7 linked regions of the Homo sapiens genome follow. The protein of the gene in region 7 purifies or fractionates together with the protein of the main gene of each other region. This does not show direct contact. Each region holds a gene or a part of one and is shown on either strand. Other genes may lie near its edges. The genes, in order: WRNIP1, IPO7, NUP88, NUP155, SMPD4, RANGAP1 and NUP107.

Region 1 (4,230 bases), on a different chromosome or scaffold from region 7:
AGATAGAAACAGACTTAAGAGAGCTTGGCTTCTCCAACTGATGAGAAGGGCTTTAATTTTAACAGAAGAATATAGGAAGCTCTCTTCTTTCCTCTTCCAGGTGCCTAAATCCTGAAGCTTTCTACACATTGGGTAATACTGGAATTTGGAGGATACTACTTAGACAGCTGGATATGTAAGTTGGAGAAGGAGTGCAGTAAGTAAAAATGTACCTGTTATTTCAAGGCAGAATGAAAGAATATGCATGGCTTGGTTAAACTCTCCCTCTCTAAATTACAAACCAAACCCCACAAATCTCTTCCACTAAGGAAAAGGAACATTTCATGGTCAGGGTGATAACTGCTGTGTAGAAGTTTCAACCAGGGATATGCATCAAGTTAGACACAAATACAGCCACATGTACCTTACCTACCATAGACTGAGCTCAAATCTCCAGGGGCAGACCCTGGGCAAGGCATGTTTCTAAAATGTATCCCAGGGAAGTGTGATGTGCAGATCTGGTTAAAAGGCTCTCCTGCTGCTCTTACACAAAGAAGTGCCAAGAGAGAAAAGTCAGAACAGAAAAACCGAGCAGTGGGTCCATCCTCTGTAAACTTGGCACCTCCACCCCTTGTAGCACTTGAAGTCACTGAGAAGACAGAGACATGCCTTAAACACTGGCTCCATCACATTGAAGCTGGTTGGTCTTGGGCATGTTACTTAACCTTTTTGTGCCTCAGTTTCCTCATCTAGTAAATAGGAGGTAATGAGATCTACTTTGCAGAGCTGTATTGAGGACTGAATGAGATTAAGACATGTGGAATGCTTAGAGCAGTGCCTGCCATGTCATGAGACTCGACAAATACTGCTTTGGTATCAACAGCGAGGAGAATCACCCTCATCAGACTGTGCAACAGCATACTCTCCAGAACTGCACATATCCAAGGCAGAGCCCCAGATGCTGCCGCTTCCATAACATCAGAGTGAAAGCAAAGCAAAACAAAACTGACTTTCTCCACAAAGAGAGAAGGTACATTTCAGATGACGACGTCTTTCTGTTTAATCCCATGGAGGCACATGTCTTTCCAAATTACATTATACTTGGTAGGGGTCTGTAGTGGGTTGAATAGTGACCCCAAAAGATGTAAGTCCTAATCCCTGGAACCTGTGACTGTGACTTTATTTGGAAATAGGGTCTTTGTAGATGTAACTAAGGGTCTCAAGATGAAATCATCCTGGATTTAGAGTGTACCTTAAATCCAATGACAAATGTCCTTACAAAACACAGAAAAAGAGAAGACGTAAGGACACAGAGAAGAAGGCCACCATGTGAAGATGGATGTAGAGACTGGAGTGACATAGTCATAAGCCAAGGAATGCCAAGGGCCATCAGATGCTGGATGAGAGCATCGCCTTGTTGATACCTTGATTCTGGTCTTCTGGCTTTCAGAACTGTGAGGATAAAGCTCTGTGTTCTGAGCCACCCAGTTTGTGGCAATTGTTACAGCAGCCACAGGAAGTGCATCCAAGGACCATGAGATCTGTGGTTCTGGCTGCTGGTGCTTTTATGGCATTATTTTAATGCACCCTTGTATTAAAACAGCTATGTTAATGTACTGTATTAATGTACTTAAAAAATTTTTAAATAAAAAGATTGACATCTACTCTATACCAACCATTTATTCTGGCCAATCCCTTGTATTCTGGAGTTCCACTACCTTTCTTTCTATTCAATGGCACAAAAGGTTATTTAAGACACTTTAAACTTTTATAAAAAGAAGAATCCATAGCCACCTTGTTTGGGGGCCAGCTTGTCAGGGGCTCTCCTCTCCAGATGATTAGAGAAAAGCCCCACACCCAGTTACGCCACAGCCCTTACCCAGGGACAGACGCCACTTTCTGTCTTCCAACCACCTCTCGGAACTCAGCCTAGCTAGGCAGAGGGCAGTTATGGCTTCTCATTTCACTCTCTTGATCTCCAAAGACTTGTATACTCTATCTGGTTCACAAATAATTGATTCTTTAGGAGTGTTTTTGACTATGTATATATTCTATGACCTAGGAATCTATATTCCTTCAAAGCAGCAAGTAGTGCAGGATGACGAAATGCTAGCTTACTTTTTCATTTTCAGCAGCACAAGCTCATTCTTCGTATCATGAATCATGGACATTTTTTTCCTGGCCTCCAAAATTAACCCAGAGCAGACAGAATCTTCACTGTTTGTATCATGTGATCCAAATATTTTTGGGAGAGCAAAATACCTGAACACTACTGCTTAGCCATACAAACCAAAGCAACTATGGCGTAGACAATGAGCTTTCTATTTCACTCAGTTAAATTCTGCTTATCCTTCAAAACTCAACTCCGCATCCCCTCATCTAGGAGGTGAAATACTGGATTTCACATATTCTGAATGCTGCTTCTCTACGCCCACTGCACTTGGCGTATAAGCGTGGCACTGGAAGTGGACCTGCTCCCCTAGCCTTCATCATACTGCGCTCCCTCTGAAGGCACAGGAACAAGCTTTTCAACCCTCAGCCAATGCCTAGCATATGCAGGAGCTTCAATTTTGACTGAATAATAACTACAGGAGGGAATTTTTTTTTAAAAAAAGAACACTTATTTCACTTTAATGGGAATTTATCACTTACATGAGTATACTGTGTGACAACTCACAATTCCTCAAGTGCAATCAAGAACGGCTAAGCGGCAGCTTGATTAGTTTCCAAATCCAGTGCCCTGCTCACCTCCTCTCACGTGCAGTTCAACAGCCTGGGACTTCTCTGTAAATGTTCTAGTTGCTATCTAGGGCACCAAAACATGACACAAGAATACAAATGCACACCAATAGCTTCCTGGAGAGAGAAAGTAAGTATATGGGGTTGGAAGTCTTTTCTTTCAACTAGATTAGTGTCACCAAATCTGATTTATATGCACAAGGATGTATATAGAGCTGTCAACAGGGATTGGAAAGCAAAATTTTACCTAAAACAACTAAAAGACATCCCAATCCACTCTTAATTATCCCTGACAGTTGGGGTGGCAGGTACTTGTATTCGGAAATCACTTGTAAGAGTTCTTTCTGTGGCCTATGATATCTCCTAACTTAACTTCTTGTTAGAATTGCTAACAAGTTGACCAATTAATGGTTTTAAGCTTAACATTCTTTCATTTTACTCTGCTTGCTGCTGATGAAAAGGGCAATAGTATTAAAGAAAAAGGCTCTTGATACCTGGGTAATTATCCCTTATGCTGGATAATGCAAAACATATTAAACTACTTTTCTCATATCGAAAGCTAGGATTTATTCATTTCCAAACCATTCACAAAGCACATAATGTGTGCCAGGCACTGTGCTGGGGATATGAACAGGGACAAGCTCCTGTCCTCACAGTCTTCCCAGGAAAGCGGGGGACACAAGATAGCAAATATAATTGGGATCAAGTCTAAGCAAGCGGTAGTGGAAATAGTAAATCATTTACTGGATATGGGAAGTTTTCTCTGAAAAGCAATTTTAGCAGATAAACAATCTCTAGCTCATTGTTATATCAGTTTCAATAACTAAATCTTAATTATTTCACTTGATCTTCTCAAACTTTAATGTGCCTGCAAATCACCTGAGGATTTTTAATAATAAAATATAGAAATTCTTCTCACAAGGATGAGCTCCTTGGCTGCCGCCTTTCTCATTTCCTTTAAATTCCTGCACGGCAGTGACTGGGGAGAGGTGAAAAAACCTGAGGGTATCTGAGTAACAACTGATTATTATTGACTTCATGTCATCAATATTAATTATTGATTTCATGTTCTATTTCATGAACTGATGACATGAAATCAATAAAAATCACCCCAGACAAGTACACATGCAGAATATTAAGTTGCAGATACATTACGATAACCAGTACACAGAGCAAAGAACACACAGAAACATGAAACATGTTAGGATTTCCCCCCTTTTCTTTCAATTTGTCTTTACCATGTGGTTCTATGCGTCTGTAATGAGAATTCTGTTACGGGAAACCTACACATGAGTATCCCACATCTGAAGTGCCTGGGACCAGAAGTGGTCTGAATTTCCTATTTTTTTGATTTTAGAATATTTGCATTATATACTTACCAGATGAGCACCCAAAATCCAGAAATCTGAAGTGCTCCAATAAGCATTTCCTTTCACAGCATCATGAAGGTGCTCAAAAAGCTTTAGATTTGGGAGCATTTTGGATTTCAGATTTGGGATACTCAACCTGTAC
Region 2 (4,230 bases), on a different chromosome or scaffold from region 7:
CACAGGAGCGTGAACCCTACTGTGAAATGTGCATTCAAGGATCTAGGTTGCACACCCCTTATGAGAAACCATTGCCTGTCTGATAAGAGGTGGAACAGTTTCATCCCAAAGCCATCTCCCCCGGACCATCTGTGGAAAAATTATCTTCCATGAAACCGATCCCAGGTGCCAAAAAGGTTGACTGCTATAAGGTAAGGCAAGCCACTGGTGACACAACCTGGAACATACTGAGAGCTACATTAAAATGCTTGCAAATATGGTAGGTTCAAACAACATACCAAATGTTGTGTCATTTCTACTGCAATAGGAGTAACTTCTTCACTATATTCACAGATCATTTTCTGAATTACATTGGTAAGGTCATCATTTTCTGTTTCTCTTATAATGTGAAGAAGAGCCTGCATTACAGGTCTGATGAATGGTGTGATATATTCTTTAGCTGTAAGAGAAAGAGTAAAAAACTTGCGTAAAACCCCTAAAACTTCTTAAAACCTGATATAACAAATATCGATGAGTTTTTTAAAAAAGTACTTTCACATAAAAAGGAAGTATGCCAAGTTTCTAGGATTATGGCTTTTTACAATTAATATATATATATATATTTTATAAGAGGCAGGGTTTTGATCTGTTGCCCAGGCTGGAGGGTAGTGGCAATCGTAGCACACTGCAGCCTCGAACCGTCGGGCTCTAGTGATCCTGCTGCCTCAGACTCCCAAGTAGCTGGCACTACAGGTACATGCCACTATGTCCAGTTAATTTTTAAAAATTTTTTTTGTAGAGATGTTGCCCAGGCTGGTCTTGAACACCTGGCTTCAAGCGCTCTTCCCACCTAAGCCTACCGAAGTGCTAAGATTACAGGTGTGACCTACCGCACCTGGCCAACATTCACTTTTCTTGACATACAAAAATCCTTTACCTTTTTCTTGATTGCTGATCAATACTTGAAGGGCAATGGCAGCTTCCACTTTCACAGGCATTTCTCTATCATCAATCAGACATCTTCTTGTTAGCTCTAAGGCTGTTTGAAGGTTCTGATCACTTTTGAACTTCACTTCACAAAAATAGTGAAGTACCCAGCAAGCCTTTTGTAAAAACACAGTGAGTTACTGTAGATACCTTACCTTAAATTCCCCCAAGCTAATCTCTATTCCCTGAGTTCTGTGTGTGGGAATTTGGAGGCTGGCCAGTGGTAGATGTGTCCAGAGACAACACTAGACCAGTACTATGATCCCAAGTTACTCTTTGGCCGCATGATGTTTGTGTGGATAGCAAGATCTGAATGAAAAACACAGACAGACACTGCTACCAGACACAGATGAAACCTATGCACACATTACAGCAGCCATGTAAAGATTTACATTAAACAGAAACCTAAAATAAGACACAGGCTTCAAAGTGAACATTTAAAAGTTTCAATATAAAAGTCCACAGAGTCATTCATTACAAGACAAAAGTATATAAATAATGCAGCTTTAAAACATACCCTTGCTCTCATGTAGCCTAGTTCACTGCTGAAGAGAGGGAATACATGATTCTGCAACATGTATTCCATCTGATCTTTATAGATCTTTTTCTGTAAATATAAACAACAGTTATTTTGATACAGTTCCAAATATAATCATCTCAATTTCCAAACAGATATAACACTATTAAAAATGACTATTAATGTTACATATATTTATTCTCATTCTTTGAACCCCAGAATCCACAACCAATTTTCGTATTCCAGAACTTCACCACCAAAAACCACTAAACACATTTTCACGTTTTTATATTCCTTGATTAGAAAGCCATTATGCCAAATCTTACCAGCAATAGTGTTCGAATGATGTAAGTTTGGTTAATTTTATCTGTTACTATGAAACTTTTATAAGGAAAAAACTTGTCTGATAAAGTTTCTGGCTGAAAATAACATAACCTGAGAAAAATCCTGCTTTCAAACGAATAAACTGGCTATCTAAAAAGGCACACTCTTTTTTTTTTCTTTTTTTTTGAGACGGAGTCTTGCTGTGTTGCCCAGGCTGGAGTGCAGTGGCACAATTTCGGCTCACTGCAATGTCCACCTCCCAGATTCAAGTGATTCTCTAAAAAGGCACTCTCAGTATTCAAAGTGAGTATTTTCTAAGTGGAAAGAAGCTTTTTAGAAGAGTTCCTTAAACTGCACATTAAATCAACATTAAAAACATAAGACACTTATATATCAACACTTACATAATCAGACATGACAACTTAATGCAATGTGAGACCCTAGACTGGGTCATGGAACAGAAAAAAGGACATAGTGGGAAATCTTGTGAAACTTTAAAAAGGTCCATGGATTAGTTGATAGTAGCATACCAAAATCAACTTCATGTTTTTGATAACTTTGCCTACCTATGTAAGGTATTACCACTAAGTGAAGCTGAGTGAAAGGTAAGAATAGATAAACTTGAATTTGCCAAGAGAACTCACTAATTCTCAGCCTTCTATGCCACAAATGATTAGAATGTCTTTAATACATACTTTATAAACAAAGAGAAGGATGGGTGAACAGGTATAGAAAAGATGAAAGACGGCCGGGTGCAGTGATTCACGCCTGTAATCCCAGCATTTTGGGAAGCCGAGGCGGGTGGATCACCTGAGGTCAGGAGTTCGAGACCAGCCAGGCCAACATGGTGAAACCCCATCTCTACTGAAAATACAAAAATTAGCTGGTGTGGTGGCAGGTGTCTGCAGTCCCAGCTACTCGGGAGGCTGAGGCAGGAGAATCGCTTGAACTCAGGAGGTGGAGGTTGTAGTAAGCAGAGATCACGCCACTGCACTCCAACCTGTATAACAGAACGAGGCTCCATTTCCAAAAAACGAAAAGATAAAAGACACAATGACTAAATATTCTGTGAGTACTTAGTGCCTGGCTTTAGAATGTAAAGATTTCTAACAACTCAATTATAAAAAGACAAATAACCCAATTAAAAATGGGCAAGGGCCAGGCACAGTGGCTCACGCCTGTAATCCTGGCACTTTGGGAGGCTGAGGCAGGCGGATCACCTGAAGCCAGGAGTTTGAGACCAGCCTGGCCAACATGGCAAAACCCCATCTCTACTAAAAATACAAAAATTAGGCTGGGGGCAGGCACCTGAGGCATGAGAATCACTTGAACCCGGAAGGTAGAGGTTGCAGTGAGTCGAGATTGCGCCACTGCACTCCAGCATATGGCGGGGGGGCGGGGAGGCGGAAATCTCAGCTACTTGGGAGGCTGAGGCAGGAGAATCACTTTAATGTGGGAGACTGGTGGCTGCAGCGAGCCAAGATCTCACCACTGCACTCCAGCCTGGGTGACAGAGCAAGACTCCATCTCAAAAAATAAAAAGAAAAAAAACAAAGGCAAGCAATTTTTTTGGGGCAAGGAATTTGAATAGATATTCTCTAAAGAAAATATACAAACGGATAGTAAGCACATGAAAAATTTCAAAGCCACAAAGACATAATGCTTCACGTTCACTAGGATGGCTATAATCAAAATATACTGCTGGCAGAAATATAAAATGGTATAGCTACGTTGGAAAATGGGTTCTGCGGTGTCTCAAATTATGACAAGCAATTCATACTCCTAGGTATATACCCATGAAAAATGAAAACGTATGTCCACATAAAAATTTAAACATGAATGTTCACAGCAACATTTGTAAGCAGCCAGAAAGTAGAAACAACTAATGAATGAGTAAATAAAATGTGGTATATTAATATAATGAAATATAATTTGGCAACAAAAAGGAAAAAGTACTGAAACCTGCTATAACACAGATAATCCTTGAAAACATTACACTAAATGAAAGAAGTCACCCACAAAGAGCTACGTATTATATGATTCCATTTATATAAAATGTCCACAATAAACAAATCCATAGAAAAAATGTGGACTATAGGTAGCCTAGGGTTGGGAGATTTGGGGTGATATGTGGAGTGACTGCTAATGTATACAGAGTTCCTTCTGGGGGTGATAGTTATACAACTGTGAATAAACTAAAAACCACTGAGTTGTACACTCCATAAGGTTGTTATTTTTTATTTTTTTATTTTTTTTTGAGACGGAGTCTCTGTCGCCTGGACTGGAGCATGGAGTGCAGTGGCATGACCTCGGCTCACTGCAGCCTCCGCCTCCCAAGTTCAAGTGATTCTCCTGCCTCAGCCTCCTAAGTAGCTGGGATTACAGGTGCCCACCACCATGCCCAGCTGATTTTTTTTTTTTTT
Region 3 (2,895 bases), on a different chromosome or scaffold from region 7:
TGAGTCAGCTCCTGGTGGTGTCAGAAGTTTACATGATTGCGGATATCATTGATTTGCTTCACCATTTCCCTTATATGTTCACCCCTGTAAAATTGTAAAGTCACTCACTTTTGGAATTATAATAAACCATTTATATGGATTCTTAAGAATTTAAACTGGTAATGTTGAAACATCTAAGAACTGCTTTGCTAAAATTAACAGCTGAAGGTTTCAGGTGGATAGCAATAGTGTTCACTATTCATTTAAGGTGGCAAACGGTGCAAGTACTGGAAATATTTTTGAACATAATTACTGTAAAATACCTTTGGCCACACAACAAAATCATGTTACTAGAAGGTCATCCCTTTCAATCCTCCCACCATAGTCATTTCTTAAGTCCCTATGTATCATGTGGCTCTCATCCCAGTAATTACTTGACATGCAAATACCAAGATTCAGGTTTCTATTAAGACAGGTTGATTCTGGCATACTGTAAAGGAAAAACTATCTCACGATAATAGCTGATTGGAAGTATTTACTTACTCCTCTTTCAGGATGGACTGAATGCACTTTCGCTGGTAGGCACTGAGAATAATGGTGGGTTTTGGAAGACTCAACACCTTCTCCATCTTTTGCTGTTGATAATCCTTTTTCATAGTAACCTTAAGTATTAAAATAATAGATATTTTGGCAGTGGTTTGCCACACATTTTCACAGTATCTATTTGAATCTGTTCTTTTTACATTTTTGTAAAATTTTCTGTAGAATAAGTGCTTTAAGAAAAATTACCAAATTTAGCTAGTTTGGATCTATTCCTACCTGTTTGATGGCATTGCCCAAATGTCGAAGTTGATCAGGTATCAGCTGTAATTCTTTCTTCATGTCTCGCTCACTATCAGAGAGAACTGGGAGCTCAGAGTGAAAACTGTGAAGTAGTTTTTTCATCCTTTAGAAAAGGCAAGCAAACATCTCAATTTAAGGTCTCTACTAATTAGGAGAAACATAATCACAAGCTCATAATTCATGAATCTGGTGTTTCTGAAGTAGGCCCCATAGGAAGGGTTAGGGGAGAGCCTCATGTTTTCCCCAACATATACTTCAGAGGAGAGGCAGGGGGATCAGTTCAGTTCCGTAGGTATGTAAGCACCTGCCAATGCCCATTTTCTTAAATATCGTTGTTAGTACCTGACTAGGTAACTAAATGTTATACAGCCCACTGACCTGTTCATGATATCCTCTTGTTTTTCTTTAGCTTCCTCATATTTGTCAGCTAAACGCTCAGCCATTTCCCGCAGACTTTTCCTAATGATGTAAGACACAAGAGACTCTTGAGGTCCACCCCTTGATGCTGAAACCACCTAATGTGGCTCAGCATCTTAGGGTGAGAATATGGTTCCAGTCTTACTGACCTATTGTATTCTTCTTATTTTTGACACTTACCTCTCTTCTCGACAATAACTGAGATCTTCTAGTTGTTTCTTTTTTTGGTCACATAATAATTTGACCCTTTAAAAACAAAAAGAAATAGAGTTTATTCAGAAGCCAGGTCTAGGCTACCATACAGCATCAGCTACCAGCCAGGGATCGATGGTTTGTGAACACAGGACATCATACCTCCGCTGAATCTCCTCCTTTGCCAAGTCCTGTTTGAGAATGTACTGCTCTCTGAACACCTGGGTGGCTCTGCTGAGGAGCTGAAGGCATTCTTCAGGAGGAGGGGCTATGTCCTTTTCAGAAGCTCTTAAAAACAAAGTTTCTACCTTTATTTTCCTTAGCTGAGTAAAACAACTGAAAATAAATAGACTCAAGTCACAGGTGCTTTTTAAACTTTTTATATTTTTAATTTATTTATTTGAGATGCAGTCTCGCTCTGTCACCCAGGCTGGAGTGCATTGGTGCTATCTCGGCTCACTGCAACCTCCACCTCCCAGGTTCGAGCAATTCTTCTGCCTCAGCCTCTCGAGTAGCTGGGATTACAGGTGCCCACCACCACGCCTGGCTAATTATTGCATTTTTAGTAGAGACAGGGTTTCACCATGTTGGCCGGGCTGGTTTTGAACTCCTGACCTTAGGTGATCCGCCTGCCTGGGCCTCCCAAAGTGCTGGGATTACAGCTGTAAGCCACCGTGCCCAGCCTAACTTGAGACGAGTCTCACTGTCGCCCAGGCTGGAGTGCAGTGGTGGGATCTCAGCTCACTGCAACCTCTGCCTCCCAGGTTCAAGCGGTTCTCCTGCCTCAGCCTCCCAAGTAGCTGGGATTACAGGCATCTGCCACCACACCCAGCTAATTTTTTTTTGTATTTTTAGTAGAGATGGGGTTTTGCTGTGTTAGCCAGGATGGTCTCGATCTCCTGACCTCGCGATTCACCCGTCTTGGTCTCCCAAAGTGCTGAGATTACAGGTGTGAGCCACCACGCCCGGCCTAGCCTAACTTCTTTTTAAACACTTCCTGTTTATCATTCTCAGGTGCCACTTCCCTCCTGCTCCCCATTCACTAGCTGATCAAATATATCCAGTTTCTTCCAAATTTATCACAGTAAAAAGTATATGAAACAGATGAGGACAGAAAGGATGCACAGTAATTCTGAAGACAGAAGAGAACCCATTCATAAAACCGCTATGCCCAAGGTTGCATACTTCAAAAATGCTGGATTGGCAACACTACGTTGCAAAATGCTTCTAATATGCTTTTCAAAGGAATCTGGGGTTTCAGCCAGAACACGGAGGGGAGACTCTGCCACTTCAACATCTTCTCGAGTACAAAGCAGGGGAGGAGACGCTGGATGGACTGTACTTCTGCAAAATAAGTAAGTAAATTGAATTCTACCATGGAGTGATTTACTGTATTACAGGAAAGCAGAAACCACATTAATCCAGAACTTTCAGAATATAAAATAAAGTGTAACTTTTGTAAAA
Region 4 (4,230 bases), on a different chromosome or scaffold from region 7:
TCTAATAGCAGGCATGGGATGAGAAACTGAATTTTTTACATCTATATATGTGCTTAAATCATTGAGTTATGCTCCTTAAGAATAATTAACACAACTGCAATAAAAAAAGATTTACCTGTAGCAGCTTATCTGCAAGGTCGACTTGTATTAGCCAATTATAAAGGGCAATACTAAAGAGCTCATCCTTGGATCGCTGTGACAATTTAAGCATTTGTTCAAACTAAAATAAAGAAAATAGTAAAAATTAGCAGTTAAAGGCTCTGTTTCTGGGCATCACAACCCTTTAGCCCTATAAACTCCAGTAAGAAATCAAGAATCCTTACATGATAACTTCTAAGAACTACCACCTTTCCCCAAGATGACTGTGCTACCATTACCATGGAGAACTTCTAAACAGTGTATTCTCAGAATGAAAATATACTATGTCCCTTACATGATGTCCTGCTTCTTCATTACTCAGCATATTTGGATCAGATGACAACACTGGAGGACCAGGTTTTTTGGGTACACTGGGAGACTGAGGAGCGGCCTTACTTTGATTTACCAGTTCTTGAAGTGTGTCTGTAATGCATTTGTAACTGTTTAATCTGAAAGAAAATGGAAAAGGAACAATTACATTATTTAACTAGAAAGCAAATGATGGTAAGTGTGGTGACTCACGCCTGTAATGCCAGCCATAGGGAAGTCAAGGTAGGAGGACGGCTTGAGGCTGGGAGTTCAAGACTAGCCAGGGCAACAGAGCGGGACCACGTCTCTACAAAAAATACAAAAAAATTGGCTGGGCACAGTGCCTCACACCTGTAATCCCAGCACTCTGGGAGACGAAGGCAGGGGGACTGCCAGAGGTCACGAATTTGAGACCAGCCTGGCCAACCTGGTGAAACCCCGTATCTGACAAAAATACAAAAATTAGCCGGGCTTGGTGGTGCATGCCTGTAGTGCCAGCTATTCAGGTGAGTGAGGCACAAGAATTGCTTGAACCTGGGAGGCAGAGGTTGAGGTGAGCTGAGATCATGCCACTGCACTCCATCCTGGGTGACAGCAAGACCCTGTCTCAAAAAACAAACGAACAAAAAACAAAACAAAACGAAACAAAAAATTAACCAGGCGTGGCGGTGTGCACCTGTAATCCCAGCTACTTGGGAGGCAGAGGCAGGAGGATCGCTTGAGCCTAGGAATTCAAGGCTGCAAGTGAGCTATTATCATGCCACTGCACTCCAGCTCAGGCAACAGAATGAGGCCCTGTCTCAAAAACAAAAAACAAAACCCCCCAAAAACAAAACAAAACAAATAACAAAAAAGAAAGCCATTGATTTACCTTACCTAAGTATATACAAGGATTTCAAGACTATTTGGCAGAATAGATGTACATATTTGGCATTTAAAATAATACAAACCATATACTTTTTCAATAAGTTTGAGAAGTGTTTGGTTAAACATTAAAAGGGTAAAGTCATTAAATATAGTAATAAAAAAATATGTTTTCGCCAGATGTGGTGGCTGACACCTCTAATCTCAGCACTTTGGGAGGCTGAGAAGAAAGGATTGCTTGAGCCCAGGAGTTAAAGACCAGCCTGGGCAATATAGTGAGGCCCTGTCTCTACAGAAATTAAAGAGAAAAAAAAAATTAGCCGAGTGTGGTGACATGTGCCTGTAGTCCCAGCTACTCAGGAGGCTGAGGTAGGAGGATCACTGGATCACTTGAGCCCAAAAGGTCAAGAGTACAGTGAGCTATGATGGTGCCACTGACTCCAGCCCAGGAGACAGAGTGAAGCTTTGTCTCAAAAACAAAAACAAAAACAAAACAAAACACCCTCCATATATATATGTTATAGAAAGGTTATATATTTCTTCTTTGTTCCGAGACGGAGCCCTGCTCTGACGCCCAGGCTGGAGTTCTGTGGTGCAATCTCAGCTCACTGCAGCCTCTGCCTCCCGGGTTAAAGCAATTCTCCTGCCTCAGCCTCCCAAGTTGCTGGGATTACGGGTGTGCACCACCACGCCTGGCTAATTTTTGTATTTTAGTAGAGACAGGGTTTCACTATGATGGCCAGGCTGGTCTCGAACTCCTGACCTCATGATCTGCCCACCTCAGCCTCCCAAAGTGCTGGGATTACAGGCGTGAGCCACTGTGCCTGGCCTATATTTCTTTTAAGGACACACATTTCCTTTTTAACAGTCTCAACAAATTTGGGAATACTTAAAAATTATCCTTTAAAATGAAATCCTACTGGACATGGTGGCTCATGCCTGTAATCCCAGCACTTTGGGTGGTCGACCTTTACACAAAGAGGCCAGACACGGTGGCTGATGGCTATAATCCTAGCACTTTGCAAGACTGAGGTGGGTGGATCACTTGAGGTTAGGAATTCAAGACCAGCCTGGCCAAAATGGTGAAACCCTGTCTCTACTAAAAATACAAAAATTAGCCAGGCGTGGTGGTGTGCACCTGTAATCCCAGCTACATGGGAGGCTGAGGCACGAGAATAGCTTGAACCTGGGAGGCAGAGATTGCAGTGAGCCAAGATCACACGACTGCACTCCAGCCCAGGTGACAGAGCAAGACTCTGTCTCAAAAAAAAAAAAAAAACATAAAACAAAAAACAAAAAACATTATGCAAAGAAAAGTCTGTATCCATAAAGATGACAATCTGCTAACGTAATGGAATGCACCTTTCTTGGAAGGCCTGAAGTCCAACTATGTCTTCTTCTGGTTCTCCATGTTTATAGAAATGAAGCCCAAGACCTTGAGGATCTTTTTTCTCTGCAGCCGTAAGAGAAAGTTCCACCACACCCTCATAAAATCTCACTGATGGGAAAGAAAAGAATGAAGACCTATGACTTACTACTAAGTTGGATACATTTTTCCTTAGCTGGCACATGAAAATAATGATCAAGGTTATGTCTCTACTGTACAATAGTCACCCTGCTAACATAAAATATTTCTGATAGGTCTTCAGAAGGAAAAGGTCTTAATATGCCTAAAAGGCAACTGTTAAATATATTTCTTCATTGGGGGCCAGGTGTGGTGGCTCACGCCTGTAATCCCAGCACTTTGGGAGGCTGAGAGGGGGCAGATCACAAGGTCAGGGGTTCGAGACCAGCCTGACCAACATGGTGAAACCCCACCTCTACTAAAAATACAAAAATTAGCTGGGCCTGGTGGCATGCGCCTGTAATCCCAGCTACTCAAAAGGCTGAGGCAGGAGAATCACTTGAACTAGCGAGGCAGAGGTTGTAGTGAGCTGAGATTGCACCATTGCACTCCAGCCTGGGTGACAGAACAAGACTCTGTCTCACAAAAAAAAAAAGAAAAAGGAAAAAAAAAAATATATATATATATATATTTCTTCATTGGAAAAAAAAGATCCTATTTCAAATAACAAAAAGGAAAGTTTTAGTTCCCTACTGGGGGGAAAAAAATACCTTGGGATTCAAAATAATACCTGTGCAAATAGTTATGGCCTTTACATTATGTTAGATTTGATTTAAAGTAATTTTTTAAAAAGTAAGCAGATTATACCTTAAAACTCAATAAAAAATTTTAAATATCTGAAAAATAAATGTAATCCAGAAAGCAATGTAAAACATACAGTAATTGAACTGGACAAGAACTGAAACTCTAATGCTAAAAAGTTATACATTTCGGCTGGGCGCAGTGGCTCATGTCTGTAATCCTAGCACTTTGAGAGGCTGAGATGGGTGGATCACCTGAGGTCAGGAGATCGAGACCACCCTGGCTAACATGGTAAAACCCCACCTCTACTAAAAATACAAAAATTAGCTGGGCAATGGCCGGGCGCGGTGGCTCACACCTGTAATCCCAGCGCTTTGGGAGGCTGAGGTGGGTGGATCATGAGGTCAGGAGATTGAGACCATCCTGGCTAACATGGTGAAACCCATCTCTACTAAAAATACAAAAAAATTAGCCGGGCATGGTGGCAGGCGCCTGTAGTCCCAGCTACTTGGGAGGCTGAGGCAGAATGGCGTGAACCTGGGAGGCAGAGCTTGCAGTGAGCTGAGATCGCACCACTGCACTTCAGCCTGGGTGACAGAGCAAGACTCTGTCTCAAAATAAAAAAAATAAAAAAATAAAAAAATAAAAAATTAGCTGGGCGTGGTGGCGTGCGCCTGTAATACCAGCTACCCGGGAGGCTGAGGCAGGAGAATTGCTGGAACCTGGGAGGCAGAGGATGCAGTGAGCTGAGATCGTGCCACTGCACTCCAGCC
Region 5 (4,230 bases), on a different chromosome or scaffold from region 7:
TCCAGCATGGGCGACAGAGTGAGACTCCATCTCCAAACACAAAATAAAATAAAATAAAATAAAATAAATAAATAAACCCAAACCATATATATATAATTTCTTTTCTTTTTTTTTTTTGTGTGTGTGTACAGTGGTGCAATCTCAGCTCACCACAACCTCCGCCTCCCGGGTTCAAGCAATTCTCCCGCCTCAACCTCCTGAGTAGCTGGGATTACAGGTGTGCACCACCATGCCCAGCTAATTTTTGTATTTTTAGTAGACAAGGTTTCACCATGTTGGCTAGGCTGGTCTCGAATTCCTGACCTCAGGCGATCCCTCCACCTTGGCCTCCCAAAGTGCTGGGATTACAGGCATCAGTCACCACTCCCAGCCTACGTATATAATTTCTAATAGAAAAAATTAAAACAACCCAAAAAGTTAAAACAAGCAAAAAAACCAGGCATCAAAAACTGCTTGGCAGCTGAATTCTGCATCTAAGAGGGTGTGAATCTGCCTCACCTCCGAGTCCTCCACAGGATCAGCAACATTTCAGGGTCACTGATCACTGCCGCTACCTGGGCAGCGTCTCCTCCTTGCCACTCCCTTTCTCCCCTCCACCCTCTGGGGAATCTGTCCACACGTGAATTGTAGGTAAAGGCCTGGCCTGCCTTACACATGCCAGCAGATCTGGGGTGGGCCAGCATCTGCAGGAAGGGGCCTGCATGCAGCTTCCTGGGGAAGGCGATGGGCCAGTGAGATTAAAGAGGGTCAGAGGTGCACAGGCAGCTGCTGCTGGGGCAAGAGGGTCTCCTGGGAAGTCGGCCTGCGTTAGTGCCCACTGAGGACCCAGGACAGCCAGGCATGAGAGCCCCTGGTTCACACTCCCAACCTGTGCAGGCACGCATCAGGCTCAGCCTGTTTGGACTGACAAAACAGGCTCTTTGGCCCAGGGCCTCCCCTTCAAGATCTGCTCCTGGGGCCCATAGAGATTCCTATTTTTTTTGCTCATAGGACAACCTTTCCACCCTGCTCACTGACTCAGACACCGCCTGTGGGGACGGCTGCTCCATGCACAACACAGCCCATTCCCATGCAGGCCGTGGAGGCCTCCAGGGACCTGATAGCTTCAGTGATGGCCAAAGACACTGAACACTAAGGACAGATTGCCCGCCATACCCCACCCTCCAGTCTGTGCTAAGACAGCTGGGGATGGGGAATGAGGCATAAGAAAAATTGGGGAACCGTGGACAAAGGGTGGCAACATTGTCCCCGTGGGCGATGCAAGTGACCAGGCCACTCCCTTATGGAAGGGCCAGGTCTTAACAAAGGGCAGCCTTACCTGGGAGGTGGTGAGGGGCTGGTCCCCCCTGGGCTGGAGGAGAGTGGTGGGGGCACACTGCCTTCGGTGGGCAGGAACCATGACAGGTACCTGTCCACCAGGATGAAATAGGCACAGTCTGAAGTACGGACGTGGAGGGACACAGGAAGTGGCTGGAAAACCAAGCTAGTTGTTAGCATGGGCTCTGGACACTGCCAGGCCACCAAGCACCAACAAGTGCAGGGAAGCCCTGGGCCGTGGCCCCACCTCTCCCAGCAAAAGGCATCCCTTCCTTACCTTCTGAGTGATGAGGCTCAAGGCAAAGAAGAATATGTAATACTCGAACGGATCTGAGAGCAGCGTCAGGGGCAAACATGCAGGGTTGATGAGCCACCCCCCGCTCAGTGTCAAGTGCTGGGCCACCCACAGCCTCCCTACCTCAGGGCCACCAAAGGATACTCAGGGCCAAGTTCAGACCAAGGCCCCCAGTAGGGGTGAACTGGACCTTGTTGTGGTACAGAGGACTGTCAGGGAGGATGCACTCCTGGATGGACGCCTTCACAGGACCCTGCAGAGAGAGGCAGTGAGGCTTGTGGGCAGGTGCTGGTGCGTAGTGCCCGATACGCAGTACCCCACATGCACAGCAGCACTTTGGGAAGGCTGCTGGGGAAGAGACCCACACACAGAACCCACCTGTGGGGACAGTGCCCTGCCTCTGAGCAGTGCCTGAACAAGAGTCTTTGCTTAGAACTTCTCCTACCATCATCTCATAAAGAGCTGCAGACAGCAAGGGTAGCAGTCATGCAATACCCATTTCCTTTGCCTCTCACACCCCTGGAACGAATCGCTCCTCAATTTGCCCTCAGAGGACTGGAGGAGATTGCCCATCACCACAGGGCTGTGCAAGGCCCACTGCCCCGAGCACCACTCTCGCCACTGTGGTTTACTTACAGGCAAGTAGGAGACAGGAAAGTCGAACTTATAGTCTTCAGCTTGAAGCTTATAAACCAACTTCATCATTGGGCCACTGAACACGAAATTGAACAAACAAACAAAAACAGGGCAAATGAACTGCGAATTATCTTGCTTTGATTGTTTCTTAATCTTGAGAAATTCAGAGAGTGCTTTAAAGGTGGAATCACCATGAGGAATCACCCAGCCTCTCTCCGGTGACCAACCTACCTACCCAGGGTCGAGAAATTCCATCACGATGCTGTACTCCACAGGATTCACGCGCCCCTGTAAGCAGCGGAGGTTCCAGCCAACGAGGACACCATCTAGGCTGCCAAAAATGCTTTCTACCAGCCATGGGAAGATGGTGTGCAGCTCCTGAAACAATGTGTGGTGAAGCCGCGTGCAGGACCAGCACCCACTCCTGCCCCGGCTCTAGTCCTGCACCACCTGCTGCCCAGCTCCCTCTGAGGAAGCCACTCCCTGGCTAAGACCTATGGGATCAGCCCTGCACCCAAAGGAAGCCTGGTGCCATGGTGCCAACGACAAGAGCAGCTTTACGTTCTTCCAGTGGGGTACATGGCATACCAAGCAGTGTTGCTTTAGACTTGGGCCAGTTAAGTAAGTCAGCCTCCGATCAAAATACATTTTTTGTGTGTGATAGAAGATTAAATTAAGAAAAATAAATAAATTTAAAAAAAAACAAACAATGAAAATAAAAAAATATAAAATAAAAAAATAAACAAAATACATATTTATTGAGACAAGGTCTCACTCTGTTGCCCTGGCTGGAGTGCAGTGGCGCAATTATGGCTCACTGCAGCCTCGACTTCCTGGGCTCGAGCAATCCCCCCACCTCAGCTTCCTGAGTAAATGGGACTATAGGCACACACCACTACACTCAGCTAATTTTTAAATTTCTTGTAGAGATAGGTTCTCAGTATGTTGCCTAGGCTGGTTTTGAGCTCCTGGGCTTAAGTGATCCTCCCACCTCGGCCTCCCAAAGTGTTGAGATTACAGGCATGAGCCACCACAAAAAAAAGATTCTTTAAACAGTGATGGAAACTTCTGACTTGAAGGATGCTCTATCAGAAAGGAAAGCAACATCCTTTCCAGAGTGAAGCCCCTGAAACCTAACTGACCTATTGCCATTTGGTATTAACTCCTTGTCTAGGCCAGCTTCCTGGGCTTGACAATTCCAGGTGTGATTTAAATACATATTTTTAGTATTTACATCAGGGTTTCTCAATCTTGGTGCTGTTGACATTTTGGGCTAGATACTTCTTTGTCGCAGGGAGCTGTCCTGTGCTTTGCAGAATGTTTCCAGCAACCCTGGCCTCTACTTCTTAGAAGCTAGTAGCACACACTCCCCATCTACCTCCAGATGTGACAACCAAAAATGTCTCTGACATTGCCAAGTGTCCCTGAGGAACAGAGCATCTGTGGCTGAGAACCCCTGATCTACAAGTTCACATGTTTAAATGTGTCCGTAAACATAATGGTCATGGTAATGGCCAGGCCTCTGTGCCAGGCAGTGCTCGGGGTTGGGGCGGGGAGGGAAATTAGGAATTATAATAAAGTTCTTCAACGAATGTATAAGACATGCTCCAAAGAGAGACGTTAGCAGAGCTATACCTTTGCTGGAAAGTCCTCAATGACTTTAACCAAGTCTTGGCACTGCTGTGCAAAGGGCTTATTTATAGAGTCAGCTTTCAGGCTAGCCTAGAAGACAGAACAAAGCGAAAAAGTCACGAGGACATTCACTCTGCAGCTTTTAGTGGCACTCTGGCTTGAGTCAAACAGAAATCCAAGCAATAGGTTATGAGTCAGACCCATAACCTCTGGCCTGGTTCCCCAGCCCCTCATGTGTGTCAGTGGCCCAAAGAGTACTACTAGGAGAGGCCGTAGTTCTATGCTCTCTGGACCAGGAACTATCAGCCTTGTTTCCCAGTACCCCCTCAGAGTGCTGCACATGATCAGAA
Region 6 (4,230 bases), on a different chromosome or scaffold from region 7:
CTGCACTCCAGCCTGGGTGACAGAGCACGACTCCATCTCAAAAAAAAAACAAAAAGAAAAGAAAATTAGCTGGGCATGGTTGTACACACCTGTAGTCCCAGCTACCCAGGAGGCTGAGGCATGAGAATTGCCTGAACCCAGGCAGAGGTTAAAGTGAGCTGAGATTGCACCACCACACTCCAGCCTGGGCAACAGAGCAAGACTATGTCTCAAAAAAAAAAATTAGCCAGGCGTGATGGTGTGAGCCTGCAGTCCCAGCTATTTGGGAGGCTGAGGCAGGAGAATCGCTTGAACCTGGGAGACAGAAGTTGCAATGAGCCAACATCGCACCACTACACTCCAGCCTGGGTGGCAGAGTGAGACTCATCTCAAAAAAAAAAAAAAAAGCCGGGCACAGTGGCTCACGCCTGTAATCCGAACACTTTGGGAGGCCAAGGTGGGCAGATCACCTGAGATGAGGAGTTCGAGAGCATCCTGACCAATATGGCAAAACCCTATCTCTACTAAAAATACAAAAATTAGCCGGGTGTGGTGGTGGGCGCCTGTAATCCCAGCTACTCAGGAGGCTGAGGCAGGAGAACTGCTCGAACCCGTGAGGCAGAGGTTTGCAGTGAGCTGAGATCGTGCCACTGCACTCTAGCCTGGGTGACAGAGACTCCATCTCAAAAAAAAAAAGTGATAAATGCACAGGGAGGAAGTCTATAAACGTTAGACCTTATGGAGATGTTAGGAACATGCATCAGCACGCTCCCAGCTACCCAAGGACTCAAGCAGCCTCCGACCTGGAGAGGAGAACAAGGCTGCCTACACAACATGACAACCAGGCATGTCCAGACCAGTTCCCCTGGTTGGGCCAGAATCCCAGGAGGCCTCACTTGATGCAGGTGCCTTCACTTGCAGGTGCCAGGTGATTCAGGGTTGGTCAGTGGCAGCCAAGCCTTGACAAGGGATGAAAAGACAGGGTCTGCTCTCTGGTTCCTAGTTTTCTGTGGTTGCAATACCTGTATACACACAGACAGCCATCCCTCTCCCAGGTACATCTGGTTGCATGAACCAGCATCTCCCAAGAGGGCCCAGGTTGTTTTAATGCAGCTCCACCAGAGCCTCAGCTCTGGGGAAAGCTGCAGCTATTCCCAGGCCTGCCTGGGATCATGGGGGTTAAGGGCAAGGGTGGGGACAACACCGGATATTAAGTCAGAGTCAGAGGCTGTATCTTGGGACTGGCACTAACTGTGGCCCCTCATTACCTATCATCCCCTCCTGAGAAAGAAAGGGCAGGGCACAAAGGGATGCCCAATACAAACATGGAAAGTGCAGGGGAGCTTGCTCCTGGGCAAATGATCTCTGAGCCTCATTGTTAGAATAGGCCCAATGATACCTCACAGAGCTGCTGGGACAAATAATGGAGACAATGTAGCAGAAAGAGCCTGACAACCAGTAAGAGTTCAGTACACTCCCTCTCCTCCCCTGGACACACCAGTGCACAACTTCCAGAAACTCACCATCTTCTGCAGTGTTGAGTTTGAGGCTCTTGCCTTTGAAACTCAGCTGTCCCCCGGCCACCTGAGTCTTGGCAAGTGTCTCTGCCAGCTTGGCAATGTCTTCCGAGGCCATGTTGACTAGGCTGGTGGGCTCCCCTGGAGATCTGCAGACTGAGGAGGCCAAAGTTGCAGTAAGAAAAAGGAGTCTCCTGGGGCCCCTGGTTGGGGGCAGGGTAGGACATCAGCCATCTCAGGAGTCTGACCCTACCTCCCCTGCTATGGAGACCCTAGAGATAAATCACTGGAAGAAAGGAAAACAGCATCAGAGAAGGAACAGTTCTAGAAGGTGCAGGAGGTAGTAAAAGAACAGAAAAATCATGTCTTAGCCTATAAGAAGCTACCATCTCATTACAAGTCCTCCTCTGCTAAACTGCCGCAGCTGGACACCCAGCAACACCATGTGAGCTGCCCATTTCCTGGGCCCCTTCAGTGAATGGCAGTCAAGTCCCAAACCAAAGGCTGCAGAGTCTGGCCCAAGCACACACCTGCTTGAGCATCTTGGCTGTTCTCTGTTTGAGGGTCCCATTCCTCAAACAGGACACAGATGGCTATGGGATCCAGATCATTCATCCCAGAGAATGCCCCACCACCCACGCTGGCATGACTCTGGGGTGGGGCACAGGGGTCAGCCCCACTGCACGTCTGGTTTCAACCGTGGCCGGGAGACTGGGCAGGCCACAATGGCCCCTCAGGGGTTTCTAGATCAGAGATCGCCACATCACAACAGCTACCATCATAATAGGACAGGGACAGGGCTGCTACCTATGAAGCCCTACTATACTCAAGTCTACCAGAAGATTTGGGTAGAAATGGGGTTGATAAGCCTCACTATTTATAAAATCAGGAGTGCTGGTAAAAGAAGTAAAGCTGGCCAGGTACAGTGGCTCACACCTGTAATCCCAGCACATTGGGAAGCTGTGATGGGAAGATCGCTTGAGCCCAGCAGCTCAAGACCAGTCTGGGCAACATGGCAAAATCCCATCTCTACTAAAAATAAATACAATTAGCAGGGTATGGTGGTGTGCACCAGTAATCCCAGCCACTGGGGAGGCTGAGGTGGGAGGATTGATTGAGCCCCGGAGACAGAGGCTACAGTGAGCCATGATCTCACCACTGCACTCTAGCCTGGGTGACAGAGTAAAACCCTGTCTCAAAAAAATAAAAATAAAAATAAAAATTAGCTGGGTGTGGTGGCACGTGCCTGTAGTCAGTCCCAGCTACTGGAGAGGCTGAGGCAGGAGGATCATTTGAGCCCAGGAGTTCAAAGCTGCAGTAAGCTATGACTGCCACTGCACTCCAGCCTGGGCAACAGCGGGAGGCTCTATCTCTAAAAGTAACTAAATAAATGAAAGAATTTTTTTTTTTTGAGACGGAGTCTCGCTCAGTCGCCCAGGCTGGAGCACAGTGGCGCCATCTGGGCTCACTGCAAGCTCCGCCTCCAAGGTTCATGTCATTCTCCTGCCTCAGCCTCCTGAGTAGCTGGGATTACAGGCACCCACCACCATGTCCAGCTAATTTTTTTGTATTTTTAGTAGAGACAGGGTTTCACCGTGTGTTAGCCAGGATGGTCTCGATCTCCTGACCTCGTGATCCACTCGCCTCAGCCTCCCAAAGTGCTGGGATTACACGCATGAGCCACCACGCTTGGCCAATAAATGAAAATTTTTAAAACAAGTAAAGCTTTGAGAACTCCTGCGCCTGCTCATGGTACTCCAGCTTTACTTGGAGTACATGTGAGATTAAATGTCTCAATGTGTACTGCCTATAAATTGAAGCCAGCTATATTAGACAGGAACGTGGAACATCACTACATACCTGAATAGTGTTTACTTTGTGGTATGAATAAACGTATCTGTGAGATGCTCCAAAAAAAGAAAAGAAACAGCAAGTAATCAGGAGAGACCAAGGAAGCAGATATGAGGGGCAGAACTAGGGGGTGCTATCCGAAAGGCCTCCTCCTACAACCTCCTCATTCTCAGATACAGTTGTGATACCCTGAATCCTCCCACCCCTAGGCTTCCTCTGGGTTCTAACTTATAACCCTGGTTTGTCTGCCTTTATCAATAAGCATGAATTATTATCCTGGGTAAGGTGTCCACTCATTCATTCAAAAACACATTGATTACTACTGTGTGCTGGATGTTGTTCCAGGTCAGCAGTATAGCAGTAAAGGAAGCATAAACCCTGACCTCTTGAAGCATATGTTCTAAATGACACATTTAGTATGTGATTTAAAAAAAAAAGGGGGGGGTTGGGGGGCCGGGAGTGGTGGTTCACGGCTGTAATCTCAGCACTTTGGGAGACCGAGGCAGGTGGATCACGAGGTCAGGAGTTCAAGACCAGCCAGGCCAACATGGTGAAACCCCGTCTCTACTAAAAATACAAAAATTAGCTGGGCGTGGTGGCACACGCCTTTAGTCCCAGCTACTCGGGAGGTTGAGGCAGGAGAATTGCTTGAACCCGGGAGGCGGAGGTTGCAGTGAGCCAAGATCGCGCCATTGCATTCCAGCCTGGCGACAGAGCAAGACTCCAACTCAAAACAAACAAATAACAACAACAACAACAAAAAGGCATTAACAACAACAACAAAAAGGCATTATTAGGAAATAGTTAAATAAAGATATCAGGGATTGGGCCATGCACACATCTGGGGGAACATGATTCCTGCAAAGGGAATAGCAAATGCAAT
Region 7 (4,230 bases):
ACTGTAGATTGAGGTCTGTAACTGTGGTTGTCCATTTCAAATAGACAATTCATCTTGTAAACAGACAACATAAACTTACAGTATTAACAGGTACAGTATAGTACTATAAACGTAGTTTCTCTTCCTTATGATTTTTATTATTTATTCTTTTTTTAACTTTTAAAAGTTATTTATTAATTTTTAAACTTAAAAAAAAAAAAAAAGACAGGTCCAGGCCGGGTGTCGTGGTTCACGCCTGTAATCCCAGCTCTTTGGGAGACTGAGGGGGGTGGATCATGAGGTCAGGCGTTAAAGATCAGCCTGGCCAACATAGCAAAACCCCATCTCTACTAAAAATACAGACAATTAGCCAGCACCTTTAATCCCAGCTACTCGGGAGGCTGAGGCAGGAGAACCGCTTGAACCTGGGAGGCGGAGGCTGCAGTAAGCCGAGATGGTGCCACTGCACTCCAGCCCGGGTGACAGCGCAAGACTCCGTCTCAAAAAAAAAAAAAAAAAAAAGACAGGTTTTCGCTGTTTCCCAGGCTAGTCTTGAACTCCTGGGCTCAAGCGATCCACCCACCTCTGTTTCCCAAAGTGCTGGGATTACAGGCGCAAGCCACCACGTCTGGCCTGATTGTTTTTTTTTTTTTTTTTTGAGATGGTCTCACTCTGTCACCCAGCTGGAGGGCAGTGGCGAGATCACAGCTCACTGCAACCTCCAACTCCTGGGCTCACTCGATCTTCCTGCCTCAGCCTCCCGAGTAGCTGGGTTTACAGATATGAACCACTGTGCCCTGCTAATTTAAAAAAATTTTTTGTAGTAGAGAGAAGGGTCTCCCTATGTTGCCCAGGCTGATCTCAAACGTCTGGACTCAAGCAGTCCTCTCGCCTCTGCCTCCCAAAGTGTTGGGATTACCGGTATGAGCCACCTCGCCGAGCCCCTTATGATTTTCTTAGTAATGTTTTCTTTTCTCTAACTTACATTATCATAAGAATACAGTACAGTTGAGCTTTGAACAACACGGGATTGAACTGTGCAGGTCCACTTCTGCATAAATTTTTTTCAACTCAACTTAGAAAATACAGTGTTATCTGGATGTGAAATCTGCAAATATGGAAGGCCAATTTTTCGTATATGCAGGTTCTGCAGGGCCAACTGTGGGACATGAGTATACACAGATTTTGTTATATGTGGGGGTCCTGGAGCCAATCCCCCAAGTATACTGAGGGATGACTGCATATGATACATGTAATATACAAAATGTGTTAATTGTGTGTTTATGTTATTGGTATGATTTCTGGTCAGCAGTAGGGTATCAGTAGTTAGGTTTTTGGGGAGTCAAAAGTTATAGTGAATTTTTGATTGTGCGGGGCGGTGGGGGTTGTTTTCCTAATCCCTGCATTATTCAAAGGTCAACTGTGCTGATAATTAAAAGATCTCTTATGGATTCTGATGCTTTCTTACCACTGAGAATTAAAATAGCATCATTCTGAGTTTTGTTTTCATTAAAATAGTAAAAAACAATCAGGTTGTAGGTTCTCAAAGTTTACCTGTATGTATGTCTTTAAAACTTCAATAGAAACTTCCTCCTTCATAGGAAAAAAAGACATAATTATAAATACACTGCTTATATGAAAGTAACAAAATTTTTGATACAAATTCCATTATTAAATAATTTAATAATTGTAATGTTTACCACTGAGCAGTAACTATACACCAAGCTAAGTGCTTACCAAAGTTCATCTACTGCCTGATTTAACCTTACCATAACTCTTTTTGGGTAGTTACTATTATTGTTCACATTTTACAGAGGATGAAATTAGGACCAAGGGAAGTTTTATTTACCCAGAGTTACACAGATAGAAGCTGCTGAATAAGGGTATATACTCAGGACTCCTACTCCAAAGCCCAAGCTTTCAACTACTGTATCATTCACTTTCTACATGCACTCTGACCAAAATGTTATCTTCTTTTTTAGAAAAAAAGCAACAAAACAACAACCAACAAAGTTTTAAAATCTCACATAGCACTCACTTTGTTTAGTTAGCTTAGCTGGTTGATTTAAAGCTGGGTACAGACAAGGATAAAGTTATGAATTTATTAAAAACCAGTTAACCAACAGCATTCTGTGGCCACAGACTAGAACCCTAAAGGGCCACTCTCAGTGAGTTATCATTGAGTGACTATACAAGACTATATGGAAGACTTTTGATTCCTTATCACCATTTCTAGAAAACAATAATAAAAAAAGTAGTGTTTTCTTGACAATAGGTATATAGCATCAACATTACAGAGAAGAAGAAATCGTTCATTTTTATATACCTTGGTCTGTAGTCCCAGAGTACGGAAAAACAAAATAAGGTGAGTCATAAAGCGAAGCAGGTGTCCAGGTAGATTGTTTCTGCTTTTGGAAAGCCATTTGCTAAACTCATCCATCAAACCTACAAGCCATCAAAGTGAAGATTCAACAATAGGAATAAAATCAAAAGAAAAAAATAAACATTACCAAGAACATTTATTTCACTCCTATAGTGCTTTCAAGTCACTGTCTCATAATTAATAGCCATGATATAACTCTACACCCTCTTTGAAACAGAGTTTGGGTTCAATCCGAACTTTATTTTATAAAAACCAAATGAAAGGTCACCTCTGACATAAAGTAAATAGTTGCATTCAAATAGGTTAATATTTATCAAGATTAAAAGATATGGTAAGTCACATGCATTGTTTGGATAACTTTAAAAAATCACTATAAGACAATGAAGAACTCATAAAGAGTAAAATAAAACTGGCTGGGTGCAGTCGCTCATGCCTGCAATCCCATGTCTATAACATATAGCACTTTGGGAGGCCAGGGAGGGAAGATCACCTGACGTCAGGAGTTGGAGACCAGCCTGGCCAACAGCGAAACCCCGTCTCTACTAAAAATACAAAAATTAGCCAGGCGTAGTGGTGCACACCTGTAATCCCAGCTACTCAGGAGGCTGAGACTGAAGGATCTTGTGAACCCAGGAGACAGAGGTTGCAGTGAGCTGAGACTGAGCCACTGCACTCCAGTCTGGGCAACAGGGTGAGACTTTGTCTCAAAAAAAAAAAAAAAAACACACACAAAAAACACAAAGTAAAATAAAACCATATCTTACCATCAATGTCTCCCAGGATAAGAAACTTTTGAACTATATGATAATGTTCTTGATTCTCTTCCAGAACTCTCTGAAAAAAAAGTTTTTAATTTTCCATAAATCTTCTAGCAGTCATTCTGTAGTATATATTCACTGTTAAACTAAAAATGTTAAACTTTTGAAGGAACATATAGAAAGAAAAAGCTGGAAATGAAGGGCCTTAGAAAGATCAAAACAAAATAAAACATGGAAAGGATACTGCCTTTGGAATATACTCACAGCTTACAAATCCAGAACTGAAAAGCATCTTTGAAAGTAGAGACCTATGTTATAACAATTTAATCTCTCAATGGTATTAAACTTTTATTCTTATATTTTATTCCTATTTACCTTGGCACTACACATGGTGGACGAGAAAGGAAGAACTCATGTGACCTAAGCAAAATAAACTATTAAGATTTCTTTCAACATGAGCAGCAGTACATGAAAGCATTCTTTGAGTATTCTCTTCTGTACATGGCACCAAGGGTGAAAAAAAAAAATAGTGATCAGGTACAGAGTAGAGAAAACCTTTTCTAACTTATTTGCAGCTTGATTTTTTGAAGAATATAGTTCATTTTTTGTTGTCAAACGTATTTTAATTTTTATTTAGTTGGCTGTCTAAATTTTCTTTCAGCATTTATTAATTTTTACATTCAAACCTTTGCTCTATATGGAATTTATTTTAGTTACATGGCATGAAGTAGGATCTAGCTTTGTTTTCTTCTGGATGGAAAGCCAATTATGCCAGCGCCATTTATTTAAATAAACCATCCCTTTCCCTCTGAAATGAAATGTCACCTCTGACATCTGTTAAGTTCTCATATATACTTGGATCTAGTTTGGACTTTGTGTTCCACTCATCTATTTATTTTCATGTCAGTTCTATACTGTTTTGTTGTATCTTCATATTAAGTGTTATTATTGAGTAAGGCAAGTACCCTCTAACTACTTTTTTTGCTTTCAGTGTGGTTTTTTTTGTTTGTTTGTTTGTTTTTGAGACAGAGTCTCACTCTGTTGCCCAGGCTGGAGTGCAGTGGTACAATCACGGCTCACTGCAGCCTCCACCTCCCTGGGCTCAGGTGA

What was found.
Region 1: the proteins of NUP107 (region 7) and WRNIP1 purify together in Homo sapiens (affinity purification with mass spectrometry; one study listed by BioGRID). This does not show direct contact.
Region 2: the proteins of NUP107 (region 7) and IPO7 purify together in Homo sapiens (affinity purification with mass spectrometry; one large-scale study listed by BioGRID and IntAct). This does not show direct contact.
Region 3: the proteins of NUP107 (region 7) and NUP88 purify together in Homo sapiens (affinity purification with mass spectrometry; 2 studies listed by BioGRID and IntAct, with this or other methods). This does not show direct contact.
Region 4: the proteins of NUP107 (region 7) and NUP155 purify together in Homo sapiens (affinity purification with mass spectrometry, with the first as the bait; one large-scale study listed by BioGRID). This does not show direct contact.
Region 5: the proteins of NUP107 (region 7) and SMPD4 purify together in Homo sapiens (affinity purification with mass spectrometry; one large-scale study listed by BioGRID and IntAct). This does not show direct contact.
Region 6: the proteins of NUP107 (region 7) and RANGAP1 purify together in Homo sapiens (affinity purification with mass spectrometry; one large-scale study listed by BioGRID and IntAct). This does not show direct contact.

Annotation. Positions count from the first base shown.
Region 1 is NC_000006.12:2,771,543-2,775,772, reverse strand, and holds part of WRNIP1 (ATPase WRNIP1), read right to left. Parts: intron 2,836-4,230; coding exon of another isoform or gene 2,775-2,835; exon of another isoform or gene 2,722-2,774; intron 1-2,721. UniProt on the Homo sapiens protein: Functions as a modulator of initiation or reinitiation events during DNA polymerase delta-mediated DNA synthesis. In the presence of ATP, stimulation of DNA polymerase delta-mediated DNA synthesis is decreased.
Region 2 is NC_000011.10:9,425,883-9,430,112, reverse strand, and holds part of IPO7 (importin-7), read right to left. Parts: intron 1,574-4,230; coding exon 1,484-1,573; intron 1,348-1,483; exon of another isoform or gene 1,159-1,347; intron 1,083-1,158; coding exon 917-1,082; intron 440-916; coding exon 279-439; intron 1-278. UniProt on the Homo sapiens protein: Functions in nuclear protein import, either by acting as autonomous nuclear transport receptor or as an adapter-like protein in association with the importin-beta subunit KPNB1.
Region 3 is NC_000017.11:5,386,186-5,389,080, forward strand, and holds part of NUP88 (nuclear pore complex protein Nup88), read right to left. Parts: intron 2,776-2,895; coding exon 2,617-2,775; intron 1,768-2,616; coding exon of another isoform or gene 1,720-1,767; coding exon 1,594-1,719; intron 1,486-1,593; coding exon 1,420-1,485; intron 1,282-1,419; coding exon 1,201-1,281; intron 926-1,200; coding exon 799-925; intron 642-798; coding exon 523-641; intron 156-522; exon of another isoform or gene 85-155; coding exon 21-84; 3' UTR 1-20. UniProt on the Homo sapiens protein: Component of nuclear pore complex.
Region 4 is NC_000005.10:37,304,624-37,308,853, forward strand, and holds part of NUP155 (nuclear pore complex protein Nup155), read right to left. Parts: intron 2,810-4,230; coding exon 2,674-2,809; intron 588-2,673; coding exon 434-587; intron 221-433; coding exon 116-220; intron 1-115.
Region 5 is NC_000002.12:130,171,031-130,175,260, forward strand, and holds part of SMPD4 (sphingomyelin phosphodiesterase 4), read right to left. Parts: intron 3,971-4,230; coding exon 3,884-3,970; intron 2,627-3,883; coding exon 2,484-2,626; exon of another isoform or gene 2,480-2,483; intron 2,325-2,479; coding exon 2,249-2,324; intron 1,866-2,248; coding exon 1,757-1,865; intron 1,648-1,756; coding exon 1,595-1,647; intron 1,471-1,594; coding exon 1,319-1,470; intron 1-1,318. UniProt on the Homo sapiens protein: Catalyzes the hydrolysis of membrane sphingomyelin to form phosphorylcholine and ceramide. It has a relevant role in the homeostasis of membrane sphingolipids, thereby influencing membrane integrity, and endoplasmic reticulum organization and function.
Region 6 is NC_000022.11:41,279,431-41,283,660, forward strand, and holds part of RANGAP1 (ran GTPase-activating protein 1), read right to left. Parts: exon of another isoform or gene 3,357-4,230; intron 2,214-3,356; exon of another isoform or gene 2,112-2,213; coding exon of another isoform or gene 2,027-2,111; intron 1,783-2,026; exon of another isoform or gene 1,653-1,782; coding exon of another isoform or gene 1,615-1,652; coding exon 1,503-1,614; intron 1-1,502. UniProt on the Homo sapiens protein: GTPase activator for RAN. Converts cytoplasmic GTP-bound RAN to GDP-bound RAN, which is essential for RAN-mediated nuclear import and export. Mediates dissociation of cargo from nuclear export complexes containing XPO1, RAN and RANBP2 after nuclear export.
Region 7 is NC_000012.12:68,724,693-68,728,922, reverse strand, and holds part of NUP107 (nuclear pore complex protein Nup107), read right to left. Parts: intron 3,197-4,230; coding exon 3,127-3,196; intron 2,425-3,126; coding exon 2,306-2,424; intron 1,573-2,305; coding exon 1,534-1,572; intron 1-1,533. UniProt on the Homo sapiens protein: Plays a role in the nuclear pore complex (NPC) assembly and/or maintenance. Required for the assembly of peripheral proteins into the NPC. May anchor NUP62 to the NPC. Involved in nephrogenesis.